Linked DNA regions of Homo sapiens. The protein of the gene in region 2 purifies or fractionates together with the protein of the main gene of each other region. This does not show direct contact. Each region holds a gene or a part of one and is shown on either strand. Other genes may lie near its edges.

Region 1 (3,010 bases), on a different chromosome or scaffold from region 2:
GGCCCCTTGCTAAGTGTCTCTTATTTTTCTCCCCCAGACTCACAGAAAGAGCTGGCCTGACCACCAGGCACCTCACTGGCACTGCTGACCCATCCCAGAAACACAATCTCAGGGACCCGAGCAGCTCCAAGGACGAGAGGATACAGCAGACACAACCTAATAGAGAGGGCGCCTGCAGCCTTAACCTCCACGGCCTTCGATACTTATGCAAGCCTGGTGTTGCTCCTGTCCTCAGAGTCATCCTGCGCTCATGCCTTTTCCCGAATGGGTTCACCTCTGGCAGTTGCCGCTTCAGTCTTGGCCTTAGCCTCATCTTGAAGTGGGTAGCTGGCGGGAGAGGGTGGCTGCGCCCCCTGCTGGCCCTGAGGCTGCAGAGTTGGGAGCAGGACACCTCACCTGAGTTTCATTTTTTTTCATGTCCAAACCATGCACATACTATAGTCCAGAATCAAAGCACTTTTGAAAAGTGGCTGCATGGCCATCCTCCAGGGCCCAGGAAGTTGCATTCCAAGGGCCTGTTTACATGGCAGCAGAATCCATCCCCGGCAGTCAGCCCATAGCTTGGGACCAGTCTGTGCCCTCCTGCCCAGTCCAGTTTACTCCTCTTGGTTCCTGAAGGTGGCCAAGTCATTGTGTTCCCACAGGCTTCTCTAGGCTGGGGGCAGGTGTGGGGCTGTGGAATTCCAAAGCACAAAAGGTGCAGAGGGGATTGGCCTTCCTGTGCCTCAACTCACCAACCACCCTCCTGCCTTCCAGTTCTGCCAGGTGCTCCATGCTGGGGACAAGTAGGAGACTGCCAGGGCCCAAAGAAATGGGTGAGCAGTAGAGTCATCTCGGGGCACTTGGCAGTGTCAAGCACCTGCCCCTTGCCTCCTTGACCACACTGGGGTGGGTGGGCCCCCAGCACTTCAGAGGCAGGAGCCTTTGGGCTGAGCAAGCACTGAGGAGGTGGATGGAAGGGAGCATCTGGAGGGGGGGAGCTTCCTTGAGCAGTGGGCCCAGGCCTGGCCCTCCACACTTCATTCTCTGACCTTTCTCTCTCCTCATTTCGGTGCATGTCCTTTCTGCAGCTGCCTTTCAGCACAGGTGGTTCCACTGGGGGCAGCTAACGCTGAGTGACAAGGATGGGAAGCCACAGGTGCATTTTACTCAAGTCTTCTCTAGTCAATGAGGGGCACCCAGTGCTTCTAGGGCAGGCTGGGTGGTGGTCCCCTAGGTATCAGCCTCTCTTACTGTACTCTCCGGGAATGTTAACCTTTCTATTTTCAGCCTGTGCCACCTGTCTAGGCAAGCTGGCTTCCCCATTGGCCCCTGTGGGTCCACAGCAGCGTGGCTGCCCCCCAGGGCCACCGCTTCTTTCTTGATCCTCTTTCCTTAACAGTGACTTGGGCTTGAGTCTGGCAAGGAACCTTGCTTTTAGCTTCACCACCAAGGAGAGAGGTTGACATGACCTCCCCGCCCCCTCACCAAGGCTGGGAACAGAGGGGATGTGGTGAGAGCCAGGTTCCTCTGGCCCTCTCCAGGGTGTTTTCCACTAGTCACTACTGTCTTCTCCTTGTAGCTAATCAATCAATATTCTTCCCTTGCCTGTGGGCAGTGGAGAGTGCTGCTGGGTGTACGCTGCACCTGCCCACTGAGTTGGGGAAAGAGGATAATCAGTGAGCACTGTTCTGCTCAGAGCTCCTGATCTACCCCACCCCCTAGGATCCAGGACTGGGTCAAAGCTGCATGAAACCAGGCCCTGGCAGCAACCTGGGAATGGCTGGAGGTGGGAGAGAACCTGACTTCTCTTTCCCTCTCCCTCCTCCAACATTACTGGAACTCTATCCTGTTAGGATCTTCTGAGCTTGTTTCCCTGCTGGGTGGGACAGAGGACAAAGGAGAAGGGAGGGTCTAGAAGAGGCAGCCCTTCTTTGTCCTCTGGGGTAAATGAGCTTGACCTAGAGTAAATGGAGAGACCAAAAGCCTCTGATTTTTAATTTCCATAAAATGTTAGAAGTATATATATACATATATATATTTCTTTAAATTTTTGAGTCTTTGATATGTCTAAAAATCCATTCCCTCTGCCCTGAAGCCTGAGTGAGACACATGAAGAAAACTGTGTTTCATTTAAAGATGTTAATTAAATGATTGAAACTTGGCTGTGGCTACTGCTTCTTAATGTGGGGGGGACAGGGCAGTGGTCTGGGCCCACATTTAGAAGGGAAAATGTTTTGCCTGCTGCACACATTGGACCCAAGTATGGGCCTCTTCTGCCTAGTACTGCCAAAGGGACTGTTAAGGTGTCTTGTCCATCTTCTACCCCCCACCCCCCATTACAGGGTAAAGGAACCCCAGACTAGGTGAGGGGCCAGCAGCTGCCTCACACTTGTGTTCTCTCCTGAGATGGTCCAGCTCACATCCAGACACCCTTGTTCAGACATTTTATTTGAATTTATGACAGTGATGGGGATTTGACTGAGATGCCTTATGGAGAAGTACCCCACCCTCTATGAAGACAGAATCACTCTCTGCCATTCATTCTGCCTGATGCTAACAACACGCAGCTGATTTAGGGAGTGTCCCAGCCTAGCTGGATCAAGGGAAATTCCAGGAGCCCTGGGGCAGGCCCTGGCCCCCAGTGCCAAGCCTCAGAGTAAGCAGACATTGGGAAAGTTGCCAACCACTTGGTAGACCACTAGGTTCTCTGTTTTCCCTTCCCTTTCCTTTTCAAATCCCACAGTTTCCTGTTGGGGAGAAGCTGTAATTAGCCTAGTCCAGGTACCAGATCCCAGCTAGGGGCGCAGCTGCTTGGATAACTCCAAGAAAACCTGGGCACCAGTATTTTTCCAATTATAAGGACTGTGGCATAAATTTTTAAATGAGTTATATTGAAACCAGATTTCTCCAGCTGCCAAGGGAAGAAGGTAGGGCTGGACTCCCTGCTGTGGCCCAGCCCTTGTTAGGGGTTGGTCTCTCACTGCAGCCAGACAGGATGATCCTGGGTTCTGGGGAGGGTAAGCTGCCC
Region 2 (7,369 bases):
GCAGGGTAAACCCTTCCCACAAAGCTTATAATGAATCTTGAAGAACAGATAGGAGTTAGGTGTACCAAGGAAGAGAGGAACATTTTGGTAAGGAGCAATGGAATCTTGTACAGATATTGGTAACGTAGATTAAGCTAGTATTTTGTTGCTACAGAGCACATCCTAAACATTTCTCTCCTAAATGTTTTGGAGAGGTTATTATATTCACATGAAATTTCTGTTATTGTCATTTTCCACTTTCTAATAAAATTCACTTGTATCTGCTTTATATTTCATGTTAATGATAACTGAAAACACAGAAGGATGAAGCAAAGTTAGATTTAGGTTGAATTATGAAGGAGGCAAATTCTGTCTTTATCATCTCTCTGGTTCTCCTGTAGCTATCTCTGCTTTCCCTAATCCCTGTATAATGCCATTGTATTGTCTTCTTTGCTAGATGGTAACCCAGTGTTCTAGCTAACATTTGCAAATTGGTGACTGGCAAGCCAGATTATGCCTGTAGGGAGTGTTTTGTTTGCCAAACACAGAGGTTTTTAAATTTTGGAACTAGAGTGCCTGAGATGGACATGTCTGTCTAGCTCACCTCATGCCCCATCTTACACCCGACTGGCTTCATTCATGTATGTTATCCGCTTGGCCGCTTTGGGCGTTTGAATTTGTTACACTTACTCTAGCCCTTTCTGTACTTTCTCCCCCAGTTTTGAATCACTTTTTGTTTTATTGTTTAAAGACAATGTTTTCTGTTGAGTGATATAGTTATTATCGGTTAATTAGATAATTGGATTTTTTTCTAATGTGTTGGCTAGCTAATCAGTTACTTCCCAGATAACATAACCTTAGTAAATTGTTACGTTTTGATTAGGGGCAGACAATGCCATTCATCGTAGAAATTTCAAACTAATGCCTGTGGAGCAAGGGTTCATGAGTCTTTTTTCATCTGAAAGACTTTCTGACCTCAAATTGTATTCTTTAGGCATACTGTTTTGTGTCTGGTGCATCAGTTCAAATTAGGGGTTAAACAAAACATGGCAGGAAACTGGGATTACAGCAGACTGGCTAAGATTTAACTGAATGTACAAGTAAACCATTTCTGTGTTACTTTTACTATATTATGATGACATTGTCTTTTTCAGTGTTGATGTTAGAGTTTAATTTGATTGTTATAACCTCCTTTTTAAAAATTAGCGCTTAAGCATTTGACTTTGTTTCAATACATCTGTTATAGCAGAAAAATCTAGATCGTCCTCATGAACCAGAAAAAGTGCCAAGAGCACCTCATGACAGGCGGCGAGAATGGCAGAAGCTGGCCCAAGGTCCAGAGCTGGCTGAAGATGATGCTAATCTCTTACATAAGCATATTGAAGTTGCTAATGGCCCAGCCTCTCATTTTGAAACAAGGTTTCTTTACTTTTGTTTTTTTTTTTAAATGATAAAACATTGGCTTTATTTGTAGTATCTGTACTTCTAAGTCTTGAGTCCTAAACTGTTGAACAGGCAGACCCTGTTATAAATATAGAGATTATTTCAAAATCCTGACCACTGTGAGCCTACTAAAGTCAGGCCTTGAGCAGGTCATTTTCATACCTGGACCTTAGTTTTGTCATCTTAGAAAGAAGTGGTTGGAGTGGCTGATCTTTAGGGTTTTAGCTTTAGTGTGACGTCTCAATAGCCTCTCGATATTTCAGGCACAGTCTGCTAGAATTTTGTAATAAAAGTTTAGGGTCTGGGGTTTTTTTGAAATACTGTTGATTTATTGCATATAAAATAGGAGTGAAGAAGGGGTTCTGTTTTGTTCCTTTTACTTTCCCCTGACTTCCTTTCTTTGCCACATTGCCCACCTCAGATATATTAGGACTTTCAAACAAAAGTATTGATCCCTTTTGTAGAAAAGATTTTTTCCTTTCTTAGTGGCCAGGGGCCCTAACTAAATAACATACTACCAGCAAACACATTAAACTGGCATCTGTCTACGAAGACACTTATTTGGGTATAGTCATACGTTTGTTTGTTTGTTTTGAGACAGAATCTTGCTCTATCGCCCAGGGTGGAGTGCAGTGGTGTGCTCTCAGCTCACTGCAACCTCTGCCTCCTGGGTTCAAGCGATTCTCCCACCTCAGCCTCCCAAGTAGCTGGGATTACAGGCACACGCCACCACGCCCAGCTAATTTTTGTATTTTTAGTAGAGATGGGGTCTCACCATGTTGGCCGGGCTGATCTTGAACTCATGACCTCAAGTGATCTGCCTGTCTCAGCCTCCCAAAGTGCTGGGATTGCATGTGTGAGCCACTGTGCCCAGCCTAGTCATATGATTTTTTAATGGAAAAGAGCTTAAGGTTTTCTTTTAAGTAATATACATATAAATGATTGGGCCATAAGTGTGCAACATCTTGACCTATTTTAGGAGAAATATACATCTGAGAGATACTATTTATCTGTATTACTGAAAGAATTGACATTAAAAAATTAATAAACTTTAGACATTTATTTCTACTACAGTTGAGTAATTAAGGTACTTATCTGACTCACTAAATACAATAATTTCTGACTTGCTGTGTGCACATCTGTTAAATCCAACTTTTTCCCAAGAATGTACTAGCAAATATTTATAAATCTTAACATGTTCGAGTTATCTAAAATTTTGCTTACATCTAAGTCACATGTTGCTATGTTACTCAGCTATTTTCTGAGTACCCTTGCACCTTTGAAAACAGCAGAAGGACAGAAACAATATAGCTAGCCACCTCTGTGCTGCTAGTATCTGGGAGGCCTTTCTCTCTGGTGCAAGACTTTTAGAAGTCATTTAAGTTTAAGAGCACACCGAGATATACTAGTAGTAGAAAACTCATTTTCCTATTCTACCTTTCTGTCATTGGCATCTTCTTGTAAAGAACTAAATAGAGGCAGATAGCTTTCCACACAATTTGCTAAAAGTTAATTATTTTCTTGTTTATTAAATTACGTACGTAATGCTTTTCATCCTGTGAGTTGAATTAGTATTCTGTTATAAAATAATAAAATAACCGATGGTCATCATAGTAGATCTCTAAATCAACAAGTAAGGGTTATATTGTGAGCAGCATTCTTTGTTTTAAAAGCAGGATTAATATAATACATTTCTGAAAGTTTCTTAAAAATAGTTAAAATATTGGCATTGAAAGGATAAACTTTAAATATTTAATATCTCATGTAGAACCCTTTCCTCCCAATAATTCAAGAATAATTCACTGATACTATATATTTCTTTTAGACCTCAGACATACGTGGATCATATGGATGGATCTTACTCACTTTCTGCCTTGCCATTTAGTCAGATGAGTGAGCTTCTGACTAGAGCTGAGGAAAGGGTATTAGTCAGACCACATGAACCACCTCCACCTCCACCAATGCATGGAGCAGGAGATGCAAAACCGATACCCACCTGTATCAGGTATGTTGGAACAAGCATATGATGTTTTATCTTAGGAGTCAGTAAGCTTTTTCTTTCAAGGACGATATAGTAAGTATTTTTGGCTTTCGGGCCTTACAGTTTTTGTCACAAGTACTCAATTCTGCCATTGTTGCATGAAAGCCACCATAGAATATACATAAACAAATGAATGTGTCTGTGTTGAAATAAACTCTATTTATAAAAACAGGGAGCAGGTCAGATTTGGTCTGTGGGACATTATTTGTAATCTTCTGGTTAGAGCTGACACACTCTCCTAGGAAAATTTAGCTAATAAGAATTTAAAGATTAAAGCCTGTTTCATTTTATTATAGTGTTGTTATCAAGCATATCATGTGCAGTGTATTAAGAAAAATTAAGGATTTTTTGGAATGTGGGTAACAGTCTAAGAAATGGGAACCAAAGATGTGATTATTAATACTAATTTGGTATTAAGGAAAATACTTAAAGAATTTCAGAGAGGATTGGCAGTTGCTTATAATAATCTTTCAGTAAAGCTATTTTGAAGTTTAATCTTGTCAGTTATTATCCAAATGATAAATTTCTAATAGAGAAATATTAGGGAAATTTTCTAATAGAGATATAGAGATCAGCTTTACAATTTTCAGTTAAAAATCCAATTTTCTATCACTGACTCATTTGGTGTTCCATCCTCAGGAAAAGAGAGAGCTGTAAATTTCTTTTTGTGGTTTGTAATTAGCTGTCATTGATTTAACTGAAATAGCATATGATGAGACTTCATAGTTTCAGTATAAATATAGCATTGTATTGGCCACATGTATTGCCACAAAATTGCATTATGATCAATGTTGAGTCATTATAGAGACTCCTGTCAGTATAGAATTGAGCATTTTATTTATTAAAGTAAGCATAAAATATCTGAGTGGATGCCAAAGTTGCATGAGAGAATGAGACTATTTAGACTATTACAAACCAAAGCACCACTCATTAATTTTTTTATTGATGTGCTTTTAGTTCTTTTTTTTTTTCTAAATACTGTTGAAGATGTTAAATTTCTATAGGAGCATGTTATTGGATCCATTTTGATATAATTACTGATAGTCATTTATAGTTTGTGTGGTTAGATTTTCTCTTTAGGCTTTTCTCTTTTAATAACTTGCTAGAATCTCTTTGTCATTTCAGTTCTGCTACAGGTTTGATAGAAAATCGCCCTCAGTCACCAGCTACAGGCAGAACACCTGTGTTTGTGAGCCCCACTCCCCCACCTCCTCCACCACCTCTTCCATCTGCCTTGTCAACTTCCTCATTAAGAGCTTCAATGACTTCAACTCCTCCCCCTCCAGTACCTCCCCCACCTCCACCTCCAGCCACTGCTTTGCAAGCTCCAGCAGTACCACCACCTCCAGCTCCTCTTCAGATTGCCCCTGGAGTTCTTCACCCAGCTCCTCCTCCAATTGCACCTCCTCTAGTACAGCCCTCTCCACCAGTAGCTAGAGCTGCCCCAGTATGTGAGACTGTACCAGTTCATCCACTCCCACAAGGTGAAGTTCAGGGGCTGCCTCCACCCCCACCACCGCCTCCTCTGCCTCCACCTGGCATTCGACCATCATCACCTGTCACAGTTACAGCTCTTGCTCATCCTCCCTCTGGGCTACATCCAACTCCATCTACTGCCCCAGGTCCCCATGTTCCATTAATGCCTCCATCTCCTCCATCACAAGTTATACCTGCTTCTGAGCCAAAGCGCCATCCATCAACCCTACCTGTAATCAGTGATGCCAGGAGTGTGCTACTGGAAGCAATACGAAAAGGTAATTTTCTCAGCTCCATGAAAAGCATTGCTATAGTAGCATTGGAAACTTTCTAAATATTTAAGACAAAAATGTGTTCCTTATCTATAAAATTTTAGGTGATCATGTTTGTGTACAAATGGCCTTTAGAAAGTAAAGCTATATCCAACTTATATTTAAAATTATTTTCCAGAAAATATATCACATTTGACCATTTTATTTTCATGCTTTGTAGGTATCCTTAAAATGTTTATTGAGTGAATGAGAAATTTAATATATCAGACTTAAATGTTATAGAACATTTAATTAAAACCCTTTATATTATGCTTAATGTGTATATTAACTCCTTTAAAAATGGTATTTTCTTCAATGTTAAGGCTGTTCATTTTGGGTATCCATGACACTTGCTCTACCAGATGCCTTTAGAGGAGTGAGTTTCCTCCCTTAGTAACAAAGGAAAGACTTCTCATATTCATTCATTTATTGTCATTATTTCCTAAGCAATGACTATAGGCCAGGCACTGAGCATATAGAATGAATAATAGTGCCTTTCCCTCAAATACAATGGATAATGAAGCCACAGAAAATATATTCAACAATGTTTAATTTATTTGACCATTGAGGTGATAGAAGAAATGTACCACCTCATTAATTTTTTAGGGGGTGGTGAGCAGGGAGGTATAGTAGACCATGATGGATAAATAAACTGTAGATACCTACTGGGATATCTGGTAAGTTTTACCAACTAATAACACAGATAACATAAAGATTTAATGCCTCTCTCAGTATGATTTCTTCACATTCTTTTCTGATCTTTTTATTTTCCTATAAGTATTTCTCATGTGTATTTGATTTTATTCCAGAAATATTAATAATATCTAGTATCTAGTATTTTGATTTAAATGAATGGTTTGGATTCACTGTATCAGGTATTCAGCTACGCAAAGTAGAAGAGCAGCGTGAACAGGAAGCTAAGCATGAACGCATTGAAAACGATGTTGCCACCATCCTGTCTCGCCGTATTGCTGTTGAATATAGTGATTCGGAAGATGATTCAGAATTTGATGAAGTAGATTGGTTGGAGTAAGAAAAATGCATTGATAAATATTACAAAACTGAATGCAAATGTCCTTTGTGGTGCTTGTTCCTTGAAAATGTTTGGTCATTCTAGTGTTTTGCTTTCTTTTCCTTATAATAAATGACCCTTTTCCTCCATAACTTTTGATTTCTAAGGAAAATATTAGCATACATTTCAAACTAAATGTTTTACAGTGGCTTATCTTTTTTTTCCCCCTGAAAAGACTAATTTGGTCAAATAAACCACTAAGTATTAAGCATGGACAGCTGTTGTTAGAGTAGCAGATTCAGTTTTTTGATATATCTTAATTGTGTACTTTGTGAATTTTAATTTAAAGAAAGCAACTGAAATTGAAATCTTGAGGGCAGCTGTGTCTACTAATGAGCCTTATTCCATTTCCTGATGTTTTAAAAGAAGAAACACTGCCTTGATTATACGAATACACTCAGAAAGTACATTTAGCTTGTAGTGTTGAATTCTCTTAAAGGAATGCTTGAATTTTTTCATTATTGTTTTATTGTTTTTATATACTTGCCTTATTTGAATGTTTAGCAGTATCCCCTTCCCACTTATATATTGTGTGATATGATTTTGCTTGCCTATAGGAGTTAAAAACTTTTCCATGTGAAATACTCTGACTTAAACATACATGTAACTTACATAACTGTTAAGAATAACAGTCTGATTTAATAAATGGTTCATTTTAAAAGTTCATCAGTGTTGCTCTTTGAATAAAATGATTTATCATAATTTATCAAATACTGTATGGTAGGCTTTAAATAGTGAATGAAAATTTGAAAAACACTTAGGCTACATAATTTCCTCTTAATTGCACAGCTTCATATTGTCTACTGTGTAAGGTAGCTTTTATGTCATTTTCCCCCTAAGTTCATAAACTCTGTATTTCTCAACTGCTTGTGGTTTTAAATTAAAACCTCAACTTGTCATCTAATTTCAGCATACCTTAATTTCAGTTTAACAGTGTTCTTGAAATTATGTTTTGCAGCCAGGCATGGTGGCTCATGCCTGTAATCCTAACACTTTGGGAGGCTGAGGCTGGTGGATCACTTGAGCCTGGGAGTTTGAGACCAGCCC
Region 3 (6,310 bases), on a different chromosome or scaffold from region 2:
AAAACTCCATCTTAAAAAAAAAACAAAAACTCAAAAACAATCTTCAAAGCAATAAAAAGGAATATTAAGAAAACGAATTCTAACATGAACCTTTATGTAGTACAAGTTCAGGCTCTTGCATTTTTTTTTTGGGTAGGTCTCTTTCTTGTCCAGGCTGGTCTAGAACTCCTGGGCTTAAGCGCTCCTCCTGTGTCAGCCTCCCAAAGCGTCGGGCTTAGAGGCGTAAGCCACGCACTCAGCCTCTGGAAAGGATCTTAAGGGCATGTGGTTCACCAACCTCTACTCTTCCAGGGCCAGTCTAGGGTCCCAACATCTCCATCTTCAGCCCCTAGCTCTGGGCCAGGATGTGCACACACACCCCGATAGGCGCTTCTCCCTCAGAGCTTCGCCACTGTTCGACAGGTCCAAACATGAATGTCACCTCCACTCCTGCCGTATTTGGGCTCACCCAGTTCTCCCCTGGAGGTGGCACTCCCTGTCCCTCCTGTGTGGAGACACGCATTGAAAATGACTGTCTCCAACAACCCAGGACTTTAAAGCAAGGCAAACAAACACACACCAGGAACTTGTTCATCAAGTCTCAAAAACACCAGTATTACCAGTCGTATGATTCAAGGATTTATTAAGTCATACATGCAAAACATAATGCTAATTGCATTAGCAAAAGATCAATGTAAAAACACTCCACAATTCTGCAACTGTCAATTTAAAAAATTCTGTTGTAGTGGCTGAAGGGTCCCACGCTGTATTCTCGCCAGTGAGTTAAGTTGTACAGAACATCGTCAGCACTAGCACAGTTTACAGAACCTCACAGACCCAAAGGAACATCAATAGGCAAAGCGACTACAGGAGGCGTGTGTCCGCGTGGGCGAGGTAAAGAGGGTCAGTATTGGTCAAGTGACAGTGTCGGTAATCTGGCAAGACAGTGATGTTAAGAAGGTTCATAGTTTAAGAATTATCTAAAATATTTTAAAAACTATAAAGCTGCAACACATGATTTTTACACCTAGTTACTAGAAAACTAAGGAAAGCACTTATTAGCTCTGAATAAAGTAACATGGAAAGCACTTTTACTAATCGACAAAAAAACCTTCTAATGCATTATCAGAAAGATTTTATAATACAAGGAGGCATATTGCTCAGTCAGAAGGGGTTCTATAAGAAAAGCACTTACTAAGTTAGCGACTAACAGAACAACCAGTTTAAAGATGAATTAAATGCCCAATTTGGGGAGGCATGGCAGGTGTAAGAGAAAGGAAAAGCTTAAGAAAACATTTCCTGATAATACCAACCTTTCTTTCATCATCTACTGCATTTGACAGAAATTAACCTTTTAGAGTTTTTACCCGTGACACTTTCATTCCTTGTACAATGTAGTGTAAATCTCCACTTCGTATTTTGTCAAAATACTGTCTTTGTCCTTTGATCACACACACCCCACCCGGCACACCCACAGCTAAACAGAATTCTTCATTAGAGGAAATAGCAGTTCTGTTCAAAATCTCCGCAAAAGCTGGTCAGAAAACTCGCTATGAAATCACAAAGACTGATCCAAAGAGCTGAGCTGCTACGCTCACTCCATTACAGTACAATGTTATGTCGGGAACACGTGCTGCTAACTCACTGGTGAGTTCAATGGCAACGCTTCATTCGGGAGGCTGTTCTGCTTTACGCATCTGAGAACTACATAGGAGAGCAAGTGTCTGCACCTCCTAACTGCAGAAGCTACCGTCTTCTCAAAGACGAAGGTCTTTGCAAAGTTCAGTGCTCGGTGTTCTCGGCACAACAATGCAGTGTAGTTCAGAAGGTATTTTGGCAACTCTTAATCTGAACAAGAATGGGGGGGGCGCTTTTGAAAAATAAGGCTTTAAGAAGGCTTGTCATTTTAGGGCTAAATTTTAATAGAATGTGAGTCTGAACTCTTACATTTAGAACAAACAAAACCTTAAAATTACTGATTGGTTCAAAAAATGGTTTTATGGAAAAATTAATCTGTAACAAAAAGTTGGCATTGAGTGCGAAGGCTCCACCGTTGTTTTTTTTTTTTGTTTTTTTTTTTTGTTTTTTTTTGAGCAAAGCGTACAAAGGTTCCAAGGGACAGGACCAAGAACGAGGGGCTGAGACATTTACAACAGCAGGCATTTTCTCTTCCTCTTCTTCACGGGAGGCGGGCAGAGGACTGCTCGGATCGCTTCGTCAAACACTGTCTTGAGGCCTCGCTGTGTGAGCGCCGAGCACTCCAGGTATTTTACAGCACCTACAGGAAACACGACCACACGGCAATGTACACTCGACCCCACTCTCTTCTGATCACACCACCAGCGGGAGGCAGCTCCTGGGGCCCGGGCGCCTTCTGCCGGCTCCCAGCCCTGCTTCCACCTTCCAACGCTGACGTTAAGACCCACAGGGCCTTGCCAGCTGGTTCCCCAAGAGTACACCAGGCCCTGAGTGGGAGACACACACCCTCCTTTCCCAGACTGGACTCCAGTCTCTGTCACTACAATAAAAGAGGTACAAGGAGGAGGAAAAACACAGGATTCCATACCAATCTCCTTAGCCATGGCTAGACCCTGCGGATAGGTGATGGGAGTCAGCTTCTTCTCCTTCAGTTTCTCGATCGTGTCTTTATCATCCCTAAGATCAAGTTTAGTTCCCACTAGGATGATGGGAGTGTTGGGACAGTGGTGCCGCACCTCAGGATACCACTAGATGTGAAGAAGGAACAGAGGTTGTGACACGCTCCTTTACAGATGTCCTTCACCTAAATCACACCCAGCCGGCGGCACTCATGCCAGACACCTAACCTCAGGCAAGGCCTCCCCACGGAGGCTTCAGGTGGTTCCCACCTTCAATTCAAGCCTTGAGCCATAAGGAACATCTCAGGTGTTCCATTAGCAAGCTAGGACTCCCGGATCATGGCTGGACAGAACCACGACCGGACAGAACGGGCTCTACAACCGCAGGGGAAGGGGGGAAGGGAAGAGAAACAAAAGGAAGGGAGTTCCTCCCAAAGCAAATAGATCACTTTGTTTTTGGTAAAACAATTTCTTAGGGTCATCTGAGAAAATTCATCATCTGTTCAGAAATGAGAATAAACTACCTAGCCCAAGGTCTCAGGTCTGCCGCTATTATCTCCACTGAAAATGCCCCTACTGAAGGGCCTCACTTGTCATTTTCACTAAGAAGTTTGTGAAAGAGACTGGAGTAGAAAGAAATGGTCGTTATTTTTATTAGACCAATTCTGAGTGCCTCATTATTTTAATGAGACCCAGGAAACTTCTGAACCAGAACCTGAAGCTTTAAAAATCCACGTATTAGGCCGGGCATAGTGGCTCACACCTGAAATCCCAGCACTCTGGGAGTCTGCGGCGGGTGGATCACTTGAGGCCAGGGGTTCGAGACCAGCCTGGCAAACATGGTGAAACCCCGTCTCTACTAAAAGTACAAAAATTAGCCAGGTGTGTTGGCGGGCACCTGTAATCCCAGCTACTAAGGAGGCTGAGGCAGGAGAATTGCTTGAACCGGGAGGGGGAGGTTGCAGTGACCCAAGATTGTGCCACTGCACTCCAGCTTGGATGACAGTGCAAGATTCTGTCTCAGCCGGGCACGGTGGCCCACGCCTGTAATCCCAGCACTTTGGGAGGCCGAGACGCGCGGATCACCTGAGGTCGGGAGTTCGAGACCAGCCTGACTGACGTGGAGAAACCACATTTCTACTAAAAATACAAAATTAGCCGGGCGTGGTGGTGCATGCCTGTAATCCCAGTTACTCGGGAGGCTGAGGCATGAGAATCACTTGAACCCAGGAGGCGGAAGTTGCAGTGAGCCAAGATTGCGTCACTGCACTCCAGCCTGGGCAACAAGAGTGAAACTCCATCTCAAAAACAAAAACAAAAACAAAAAAAAAGACTCTCTCAAAAATAAATAAATAAAATAAACTGCTGATGGGCCAGATGCAGTGGCTCACAGCTATAATCCCACCACTTTGGGAGGCTGAAGCTGAAAGATCACTTCAACCCAGGAGTTTGAGACAAGCCAGGGTCTACAAAACCAGCCATACAAAAATTCTTTTAAGATTAGCCACGCATGGTGGTGCACATTTATGGTCCCAGCAACTCAGGAGGCTGGGGCAGGAGAACTGTTTGAGCCCAGGAGTTCAAGGCTACAGTGAGCTCTGATGTCACCACTACAACTCCAGCCTGGACACAACAGAGTGAGACCTCCGTCTCAAAAGAAAAAAAAAAACCCAATCATGTACTTAAGTAGCAAATTGCTAAAACCAATTTAAATAACTAAAAATTCCTAGGCTAAGTGATATTTTAAAGTATTTATTTCTGAGAGGATCATTCTATAACTTACATACACATTTTAAATCCCCACCTACCTTTGCACGGACATTTTCAAATGATGCAGGACTCACAAGGGAAAAGCAAATTAAGAACACATCCTACAAAAAGGAAACACAGGGAAACATTTAGACAACAACCTTAGAATGAAGCATGCACTTTGCTTTCTACATGTTGCTGGGAAGGACTTGTTGGACGCAGAGCGTGTCTACCAGTGGTGTGGTCAGACGCTTCCTGATCCACCCTTTCAGTTTGTCAGAGGGCTCCCAAACCAAACCCAGCATGTCAAGCCACCAGTTACTTATGAAAATGGGGAGCATGAAGGGAGAATGATGCTGGAAGCTCTTCAAGGATCAGGAGGATCAGACCAGACCCTCAGGAGGCTTCCTTTACGCCTAACTATCTAAAATGAAAAAATCAAGTATAAAGGTATGATTCCAATATTTCTGTAAAATCTGGTTTAGAGTACAAACAGTTTTAGATGGTCACTGGTTCCAATTAAACTGCTTCTTCAGGAGCTGCCTGTCACAGCTCCCAGCACCAAGCGGGGGCTCCAATATTTGCTACTTGAGCCCTTCCCTCCACAAGGAAGGAGGACTTAGTGTGTAAGTGGCACCTTCACAGCTGACAACCACCCTCACGCTGCCCTAGAGTCAGCACAGCCAGGGCCTCAGGAGAACTCGCTCCCGGGGCAGCTGTGGCTGACGCAGAGGCGCAAAGGGTGGGTGCAGAGGACAGAGTAGAGGGTGCTTCGGGGCACACGCCAAACATCTGCATGCTTCATCCATTCTGTATTTTGTGTCAAACCAAATTCAAATATTCACCTGTATTTAAAAATGCCCAAGAATTCTAAAATGCTAGATTTCTAAAATATTCTCCTGGAAAAAGGCAATTATGCTACTTTATGAAATGCACACAATTCCCAAGCTACACTTTCAACCCTCCAGCTGATACCTTGTACCTGAAAGGGAAAGAAACATCCCACACAACAGCTTTTTATAACTGGCATTTGAAGAATGCTGGCGCATGCACAAGCTCGTCCAAGAATCACCGCGGCACCCAGCACACCATCTCAAGCACGGTGGGGTTAGCTCAGCAGCACTGCACAGCCACGCCCAGACAGCCCCACCACACGGGACACCCAAGCGGAGAAAGAAGGCCCCGGCAACAAGGTTAGTCCTGCTCCGGCTCGGCTCACAGCCAGGTGGGCTTCCGGGAGGAGTCTCCATATCTGCATCTCCAACCAGCCAGGAGAGGGGCCCTCTCACTGTCCCCTCCTTTCACTTGGGAGGAGAAGATCACAGTTCACAAACTGCTTTAATTCAAGCCGGTGGGTAAACTATCACACTCTAATGAAGTTTATTTCATCAAGCAAAACCCCAACCTTGAGTGAATTAAATATAAAACACTCAAGGAGCTTGAGGCTTAATAAAAAATCCTAGGAAAACGAAGTGAAATGAGAGAACAGAGAAAGCTTGAAACTGAAGTGGACTGAAAGTTTTACATACGGCAATCGGCTTGTCTTTGCCCCGGGAGGTTATATCCTTACCGTACGTTTCTCCAACCTAGTAATGCATGAGAACTTGGTTTGAGTTTAGTACAGACTGAGGACAACAAAAATCAATATAACCTCTTATCGATTCTTTATTAGAATTTTGTCTTAACCCTCCGGAGAGATCCAAAAGCATACAATAGATTCTAACATATCTTCGATGACAAATGCCACTGAAACACTCCACGCTACCTGGTCAAAAGCAGGCGTTAAGTTCAACGATGGTGAAGACAGAGGTCAGGGAGATCCTGAGGGGGGGCAACAACGTGCTCCTCCTCCCATGGCAGCACCCACCAGAATCTACAACAGCTGGCACAGCCGGAGATGTTCTGCACTGTCCCTTACCGCAAAGGCAGGCGGGAGCCACGGGCACTTTCAAGTGCTCCATCCGAGTTCTCAGACACAGCCTAGT
Region 4 (7,315 bases), on a different chromosome or scaffold from region 2:
ATGAGCCACCACGCCCGGCAAAAGGCATAGATTTTAAGTGTGCAATTCAATGTGATTTGACAAATGTATGTAGTTATGTAGCCCCCAGTACAGTGATGATATTGAACATTTCCTTTACCTCTAAAAGTTCACTTGCATCCCTTTGGTGTCACCCCACCACTACTCCAGCCTTTGGCAAAGTCTGATCTGATTTCTATCACTGTAATTTTGCCTTTTCTAAAATTTCTTAGAAGAGGAATCATACAGTAGGTTATTTTTTTATTTTATTTTTTAGTTTTATTTTTTTCTGAGACAGAGTTTTGCTCTCGTTTCCCAGGCTGGAGTGCAACGGCTCAATCTTGGCTCACCACAACCTCCACCTTGTGTGTTCAAGCAATTCTCCTGCCTCAGCCTCCCAAGTAGCTGGGACTACAGGTGCGTGCCACCACACCCAGCTAATTTTGTGTTTTTAGTAGAGACAGGGTTTCTCCATGTTGGTCAGGCTGGTCATGAACTCCCAACCTCAGGTGATCTGCCCGCCTCAGCCTCCCGAAGTGCTGGGATTACAGGTGTGAGCCACCGTGCCGTTTTTTTTTGTTTGTTTGCTTTCTTTTTTTGAGATAAGAATCTCCCTCTGTCCCCCAGGCTGGACTGCAGTGGCATGATCTCAGCTCACTGCAACCTCTGCCTCTTGGGTTCAAGCAATTCTCCTGCCTCAGCTGCCTAAGTACCACGCCCGGCTAATTTTTGTATTTTATTTTTAGTAGAGATAGGGTTTCCCCGTGTTGGCCAGGCTGGTGTCGAACTTCTGGCCTCAAGTGGTCGGCCCACATTGACCTCCCAAAGTGCTGGGATTACAGATATGAGCCACTGTGCCCAGTCCGTGCCTAGCTACTTGAAAAAAACATACATGTTGTAGAGAGAGCCTGTTGCTCAGACTAGTCTCAAACTCGTAGGCTCAAGTGATCCTCCTGGTTCAGCCTCCCAAAATGCTGGGATTACAGGTGTGAGCCACTGTGCCCAGCCTTTTGGCTTGTTTTAAAAAACTGGTTTGTCATCTTATTACTGAACTGTAAGAGTTGTTTATATATTAGGGTACAACTCCTTTATCAAGATATTTGTTTTGCAGATATTTTCTCCCAGGTTTTGGTTTTCCTCGTCTTCCTTCTTTCTTTTTCTCCTCCTCCTCCTCCCCCCGCTCCCTCTCTCCCTCCTCCTTTTTCTTTTCTCCTCCTCCTCCTTCTTCTCCCTTCTCCTCCTTCTCCTTTTTCTTCCTCCTCCTCCTCCTCCCCCTCCTCTTCCACCCCTTTCTCCTCTCCTTCCTCCTACTCCTGTTCCTCCTGCTCCTGTTCCTCCTCACCTTTAAGGCATGAGGGATAAGTTCTTTTAGTGAACTTTACATGAGCCACAAATATTTGTACAAGTTTGCACTGTCCACTGGATTTTGGAAAGATCACTGTATTAGTCCATTCTAGCACTGCTATAAAGAACTATCTGAGACTGGGTAATTCATAAAGAAAAGAGGTTTAATTGGTTCCTGGCTCTGAAGGCTGTACCAGAAGCATAGCTGCTTCTGCTTCTGGGAGGCTTCAGGAAGCTTCCAAAATGGCAGGAAGGCAAAGGGGAAGAGAAATGTCTCATGTGGCAGGAGGGGAGCAGGAGGCAGGCGGGGAGGTGTCATATACATTTATTTCATTTTTTAGACATGGTTTCCTTCTGTCACCCAGGCTAGAGTGCAGTGCTGTGATCTTGGCTCACTGCAATCTGTGCCTTCCAGGCTCAAGCAATCCTCCTACTTCAGCCTCCCAAGTAGCTGAGTCTACAGGTGCTCACTACCACACCTGGCTAATTTTTCGTGTTTTTTGTAGAGACGGGTTTTTGCCATGTTGCTCGGGGTGGTCTGGAACTCAAGCGGGAGTAGTTCGTCATGTTGGTCTCCCATTTTGGGAGTCAAGTGGATTCTCCCACCTTGGTCTCCCAAAGTGCTGGGATTACAGGCACAAGCCACTGCACTGGGCTGTCATACACTTTTAAATGACCAGATCTCAGGAGAACTCACTCGAGATCATAAGGAGAGTTCCAACAGGATGCTGCATAACCATTCGTGAGAAATCTGCTCCATGATCCACTCCCGCTTCCCCCAGGTCCCAACTCCAACATTAGGGATTACAATTCAACATGAGATTTGGCAGGGATGCAGATCCAAACCATATCAATCAGTAACCTAGGAAACTTGACGGCATTTTCAGTGCCCTTAGCTAAACTCCTTAACCTATCTAAGCTTAAATTTCCTTATTTGATAAGGAAGGAAAATAATATTTATATTATCTGTCTCTCAGAGTTGTGAGAAGAAATCTGACAGTACTTTTTATTTGTATTTATCATCATCATCATTATTATTCATTCATTGCTCAACTGCATGGACAGTACGTTGAAAATAGTAAATTAGTATCACCTCCCTAATCACTTCCCCAATGTTGTTGAAATGTGTCAATATTTGAATATATACAAACTGAGTGATTTCTACAGTTAAACCTCAAGTAGAGACCAAGATCAATAATACATTAAATTTTAATAACTTGGATTAAGTCGTGTTTGGGTTAACGATAAATATCAAAAGATAACTATTACACCTATTCCAGATAATAAATGTATTACTTTCCATAATATCTGGAATAGGTATAATAGTTATCTTTTGATAGATTCCTTGATGGAGAATCTGGTGGCAAGGGGAAGTTAACGTTTTTAGTAGGAAACTGAGTTTTTCCTTTCAGAGGTCGAAGAGGGAAACTGGTTCCCTGGGGCCCTGAATAAGGCCCCAGTAAAGGCAATATTCAATAAATACCTGGTGCTGGCAATTTTTAATTTGGTTGAGTGATGTTTTTACTCCTAGTTATTTTGATTCTAAATGACTTTATGGAGATACATGAACATATGTCCAAAGTCTTTGGACAACACTTTTCATAGCTGATTATATCCGAAGCATTTAATGTTCCTGTTGAAGTGAAGAGCTTGAAATATAGGGCCTTTTGAGACTATTCCAAAGCAGGTGATAAAAACAAAACAAAACAAAAATCCAGGAGCAAAAAACGAAGGATCAGGGTGGGTGGCTCATGATTGTAATCCTAGCAGTTTGGGAGGTTGAGGCAGAAGGATTGCTTGAGGCCAGGGGTTCGAGACGAGCGAGGGCAACATAATTTGATCCCTGTCGCTATAAAAAATTAAAAAGCTCAGCCAGGTGTAGTGACCGACGCTTGTAGTCCCAGTTACTCTGGAGGCTGAGGCAGGAGGATCGCTTGACTTTAGGAGGTCTAGGCTGCAGAGACCCATGATTGTGCCCCTGTACTCCAGGCTGGGTAACAGTGAGATCCTGTCTCAAACAAGCAAACAACTCCCACCCCTAAAAAAACGTGCACATGACCTTAAAAGTGTAGGAAGATTACATGATAAGGAGAGTCAGAGAAAAGAGAAATTAGGACAGGAAAGCACTACAAGCTATGTATGTTTATTTTATAATTGAGTCTTTAAGGGTACGGAGTATTCGTACTCAACTTGTACCCCCAGTGTCTAGTACGCTGCTTGGTAAACAGCTGGCAATCAAGAAATGTTTGCTAAATTTTAAATGAATTGATGGGGGCGGAACTTCAGAAAGTAAAGCCTGACTCGCTTTATTTCTAAGAAGGCAGAGGAAGTAAAAATCTAGTTTTCCGTACTCTGTCCCCTTTTTAATCCTTCTCTGAATGGGTGTCCTTGATTCACTGACATTTCCTAATTAACCAAGTTCTGCCAAGTTTCACATGAAACTTGGGGAACCGATTTCATTCCCCCAGTATCACCCTGTGGCGCCACCTTCCGGAGCTGTGAGGAAACTCCGGACTTCCCCCCAACACCGCCCCCTCCCTCCACCCTCGGTCTCCGCTTTCTGCGCTCTGCCGCGTTGGTTTTCGGAGGTGTCTGGGCGCATGCGCTTTGGACGGGCCGCCTAGCCTAGGAGAGACTACAATTCCCAGAAGACAGTGCGAAAGAAAAAAAAAATCCCGCGGTCCGTGGGGGTGGGAGAAATAAACGCTCGCGAGAGAACGAGGTTCAGGCGGCTGCACGAAGGGGGTGGAGGGGGGCTGGAGAGAGTGAGGAGGAAGGGGAGGAGGTGCCGTCCCACAATACCAGGCGGGAGGGCGGGTAGGCGGTTTGTATCCGGGCTGTGAGGTGCTCGGAGCCTCGGCGGACCTTGCTGCCTCTGTCTCTTTAACGCGAGAGGAAGCGATGCAGAGGGGTGGAAAATGGCAGAGCTGCAGATGTTACTAGAGGAGGAGATCCCGTCTGGCAAGAGGGCGCTGATCGAGAGTTACCAGAACCTGACTCGGGTGGCAGACTACTGTGAAAACAACTACATACAGGTGAGGCGCTCTGGCGGCCGGCGGGCGCTGGCCGGGTCGAGGACCCGCCGGAGTGACCAGCCCACTGGGCGGGGTGGGGAACTGCCCTGACCTCAGCGGCTGCCACCAACCCGAGCCCCTACCGCAGCCCCAACCCCAGCCCCAACCGGGGACAGAGCGAGTGGCCGGGCTGAGGGAGTCGGGCTGCGATACAGGAAGTGGCTGTGGTGGTGGAAACCGATAGAAGGGGAGAGAGAAAATGGGCGAGGGAGCCGGGAGCCCGCCGCTGCCGCAGCCCGGCGCCCCCCTCGCGTCCGCTTCCCCCAGGGCCCGGCCACCGGGGTCGCGCGCCCCCCAGGTAGCCTCCAGTCCGCAGGGCTGGAGTCCCGGAATACCCCCGAGCTGCCGCCGCGCCGCCTCTCTGCGCCGGGAGAGGAGGTCCAGGACGGGAGAGGGGAGAGGAGAGGGCAGGGACGAGGCTGAAGCCGCAGAAGGGAGAGGACCAGCGGGGTGTGTGTTGTGTGTCGGCGGAGGGTGGGGTGGGGGCGATTATGTCAGTTTCAGCCCCCAGAGGGTGTGTCTTTTATTTATTTATTTATTTAAAAAAAATTTGTCATGAGTCACATTACACCGACCTCCCGGAGGAGAGGAGGAAGCGGGTGTGGGGAGTGAGGGAGGGCGTTTGAGAGAAGTTCATCTTAAAATTCCTTTAATTGAAGGTTTGTAAATCTGTCTGCTTGTCCATTTTCAAGTCGGGTTTTTTTTATTTTTTTCCCCCTCTCATCGTTTTCACTTCCGCCCCACCATAATGTATTCTAAGAGGTTGTTAGGGCTGCTATCATTAATTATCAAACACGAATTGTTCTTAACTCCTTGGAAAAACGGCTTACCCTCCCTTCTCCCAAAAGTTCTTGAGCTGTAGGCTTCATAAGTAACTTAAAATAGACTGGTGTCATCGCCGGTTGCTTATTTTCTGAGGTTTCTCTCTTAACAAGCTAAGTAAATGTATAGTATGTGAATCCAAATACAGAAACGAACAGAGGTAGCCTCTGAACTACAACGTAAAAATATCTGTTATTGTAAATTAGAAAACTCTTGGGACTTTGTGACAGATGCTTGTTTGTTCGTTTCTCTTTGGATGATTGGAAGTGAATTGTGTGTGGTAGTTTGTTTTGAAGATCTTTAACTGTGTAAACCAACAGTTTGCGCTAGAAACAAAGTAGCACAGTCCTTTGTATAAATATAAAGGCACCAGGAATGCTCTTGCTTTTGGTAAGGCAAGGCCAAAACGTGCTTTGAAAGGTTAGGGTTATTGCAATTCAGAACTAAATTGTTTATAGAAATGTCTCCCATGTGATTATAATTTTTAAGAACCGATGTTTCTGTGTTGGCAAATGCTTCCCCTCTTTATTTTTAGAGGGAGATGCTGTTTTCAGAATGTTTTGAATATTTCTCAGTTTTCATGTTAGTAACATTGTATCTTCAGTAGCACTACTCGGAATTTATCTTCACAATTTTTTTTTCAAGCTTTCACTTTAGGAATTCTCCTGATAAGTGAACTTGTTGAATGCCTGCCACATCTACTGTATCACTTTGTGCAAACTTTATATTTAGCCCTTCGAAAAACTTTTAAAAATCTAGTAGGGATGTGGATATGGTTTGCAAATATAAAAGTGATCTCGTAGTTTATCGATATTAAAAATAGGCAACTTTTATTCAACTTAACATGAAAAGCCTTGAAATTGAGGAGAACCTTAATTTGCTGAAAGTTTTAAAGATTTTTGAAAGCCAAAAGGAGAGCACAGTAAGTTTAATTTCTCGCTTTCCAGAAAAGTTATGTGTTCTCTGTAGAAGTCAGTAGATAAGTGCTTCATACAGGGGTGGCTCCTTTTTGTTTTGCATGTTGGGAAATCTGACAAGTATATAGTGTGGTAACTATGTGTTGGCAACTGTTAGTAACTGTAAACGTGTTTTAACCTGTCTGTGTACTATTACTTTTTCAGGTAGTTGTATGTTGTAATGCTTTTTTTTTACCCCTCTCTGACCCCTTTCCTTTACTCCTCTTGCTACAATCATGTAACTTTGAAGCACTTTAAAACTTCATTGCTAATATCTCTAATTAAGTCATGTTATTTTTCATACAGTCTCTCACTTTATAAAATGTTAGTGCCATGGTGCACGAATAGCCACAGTCAGTGGCCCCGTTTTTTTTTTTTTTTTTTTTTTTTTTCTTTTTTTGTGGGGGCGGGGTGGGGTATAATCCTAAATCTGACACCAGTGAGGTGTTTTGTTCATATTGGAAAAAAAAAAAAAGAATTCACGCAAAGCAATGATTATCTAAATACCTTAGTAGCCTTTATACGTTGGGCTGCATGATCCAGGCCACTAGTTGCCTCCCTAAGGGACTCAGACAGGGTCAGGCTCAGAAAGTGATGTGGAAGTTGATGTGGTAGGTGGTGCTGCTGACTTTGGTGCTAAGAATGGGGAATGAATAATATTAGAAATATCCATTAGGGTGTCTGTTGAGGTCTTTCTGTATCCTTCCTGTGACCTGATTGGGTTATTTATAACTAATACTCTTCCTAAATATATATCTCTTCTCAGTGAAAGTATGCAGTTCACGTGTGCTTTGAGAATTTTTAAATAAGGTGAGCTAAGTTATTGCTTGGGTGATTTTTGTTCTGAGATTCACTTTTCATTTCGTTTTTCTACAGTTTGAAAGTGCAGTCCAGTTTAGCTAAGGTGTGTAGCTGAGAAACTCTTTTGGCTGTGGTGCATTTAAGTTCTTGCGGCAGTTTATTAGTTCTTTGGTTCTGTTGACTTTTAACTAGTAGGTTGTATTATTAATAGCAAAACATCTGAAAAGATTCTACTACATTAAAAAGGACAGTTTTTTTCTTTCTTTTTTTTTTTTTTTTTGAGACAGACTTGCTCTGTCACCCAGGCTGGAGTGCAGTGGT

What was found.
Region 1: the proteins of WASF1 (region 2) and NHSL3 purify together in Homo sapiens (affinity purification with mass spectrometry; 3 studies listed by BioGRID and IntAct, with this or other methods). This does not show direct contact.
Region 3: the proteins of WASF1 (region 2) and RAC1 purify together in Homo sapiens (affinity purification with western blotting; 3 studies listed by BioGRID and IntAct, with this or other methods). This does not show direct contact.
Region 4: the proteins of WASF1 (region 2) and ABI1 purify together in Homo sapiens (affinity purification with mass spectrometry; 6 studies listed by BioGRID and IntAct, with this or other methods). This does not show direct contact.

What each region holds. Positions count from the first base shown.
Region 1 is NC_000001.11:32,772,828-32,775,837, forward strand, and holds the end of NHSL3 (NHS-like protein 3), read left to right. Parts: intron 1-37; coding exon 38-60; 3' UTR 61-2,143; downstream 2,144-3,010. UniProt on the Homo sapiens protein: Able to directly activate the TNF-NFkappaB signaling pathway.
Region 2 is NC_000006.12:110,099,436-110,106,804, reverse strand, and holds the end of WASF1 (actin-binding protein WASF1), read left to right. Parts: intron 1-1,225; coding exon 1,226-1,398; intron 1,399-3,247; coding exon 3,248-3,427; intron 3,428-4,588; coding exon 4,589-5,217; intron 5,218-6,125; coding exon 6,126-6,283; 3' UTR 6,284-6,986; downstream 6,987-7,369.
Region 3 is NC_000007.14:6,398,263-6,404,572, reverse strand, and holds the end of RAC1 (ras-related C3 botulinum toxin substrate 1), read right to left. Parts: intron 5,912-6,310; coding exon of another isoform or gene 5,855-5,911; intron 4,448-5,854; coding exon 4,385-4,447; intron 2,706-4,384; coding exon 2,546-2,705; intron 2,258-2,545; coding exon 2,127-2,257; 3' UTR 606-2,126; downstream 1-605. UniProt on the Homo sapiens protein: Plasma membrane-associated small GTPase which cycles between active GTP-bound and inactive GDP-bound states.
Region 4 is NC_000010.11:26,857,808-26,865,122, reverse strand, and holds the start of ABI1 (abl interactor 1), read left to right. Parts: upstream 1-4,164; 5' UTR 4,165-4,259; coding exon 4,260-4,376; intron 4,377-7,315. UniProt on the Homo sapiens protein: May act in negative regulation of cell growth and transformation by interacting with nonreceptor tyrosine kinases ABL1 and/or ABL2. May play a role in regulation of EGF-induced Erk pathway activation. Involved in cytoskeletal reorganization and EGFR signaling.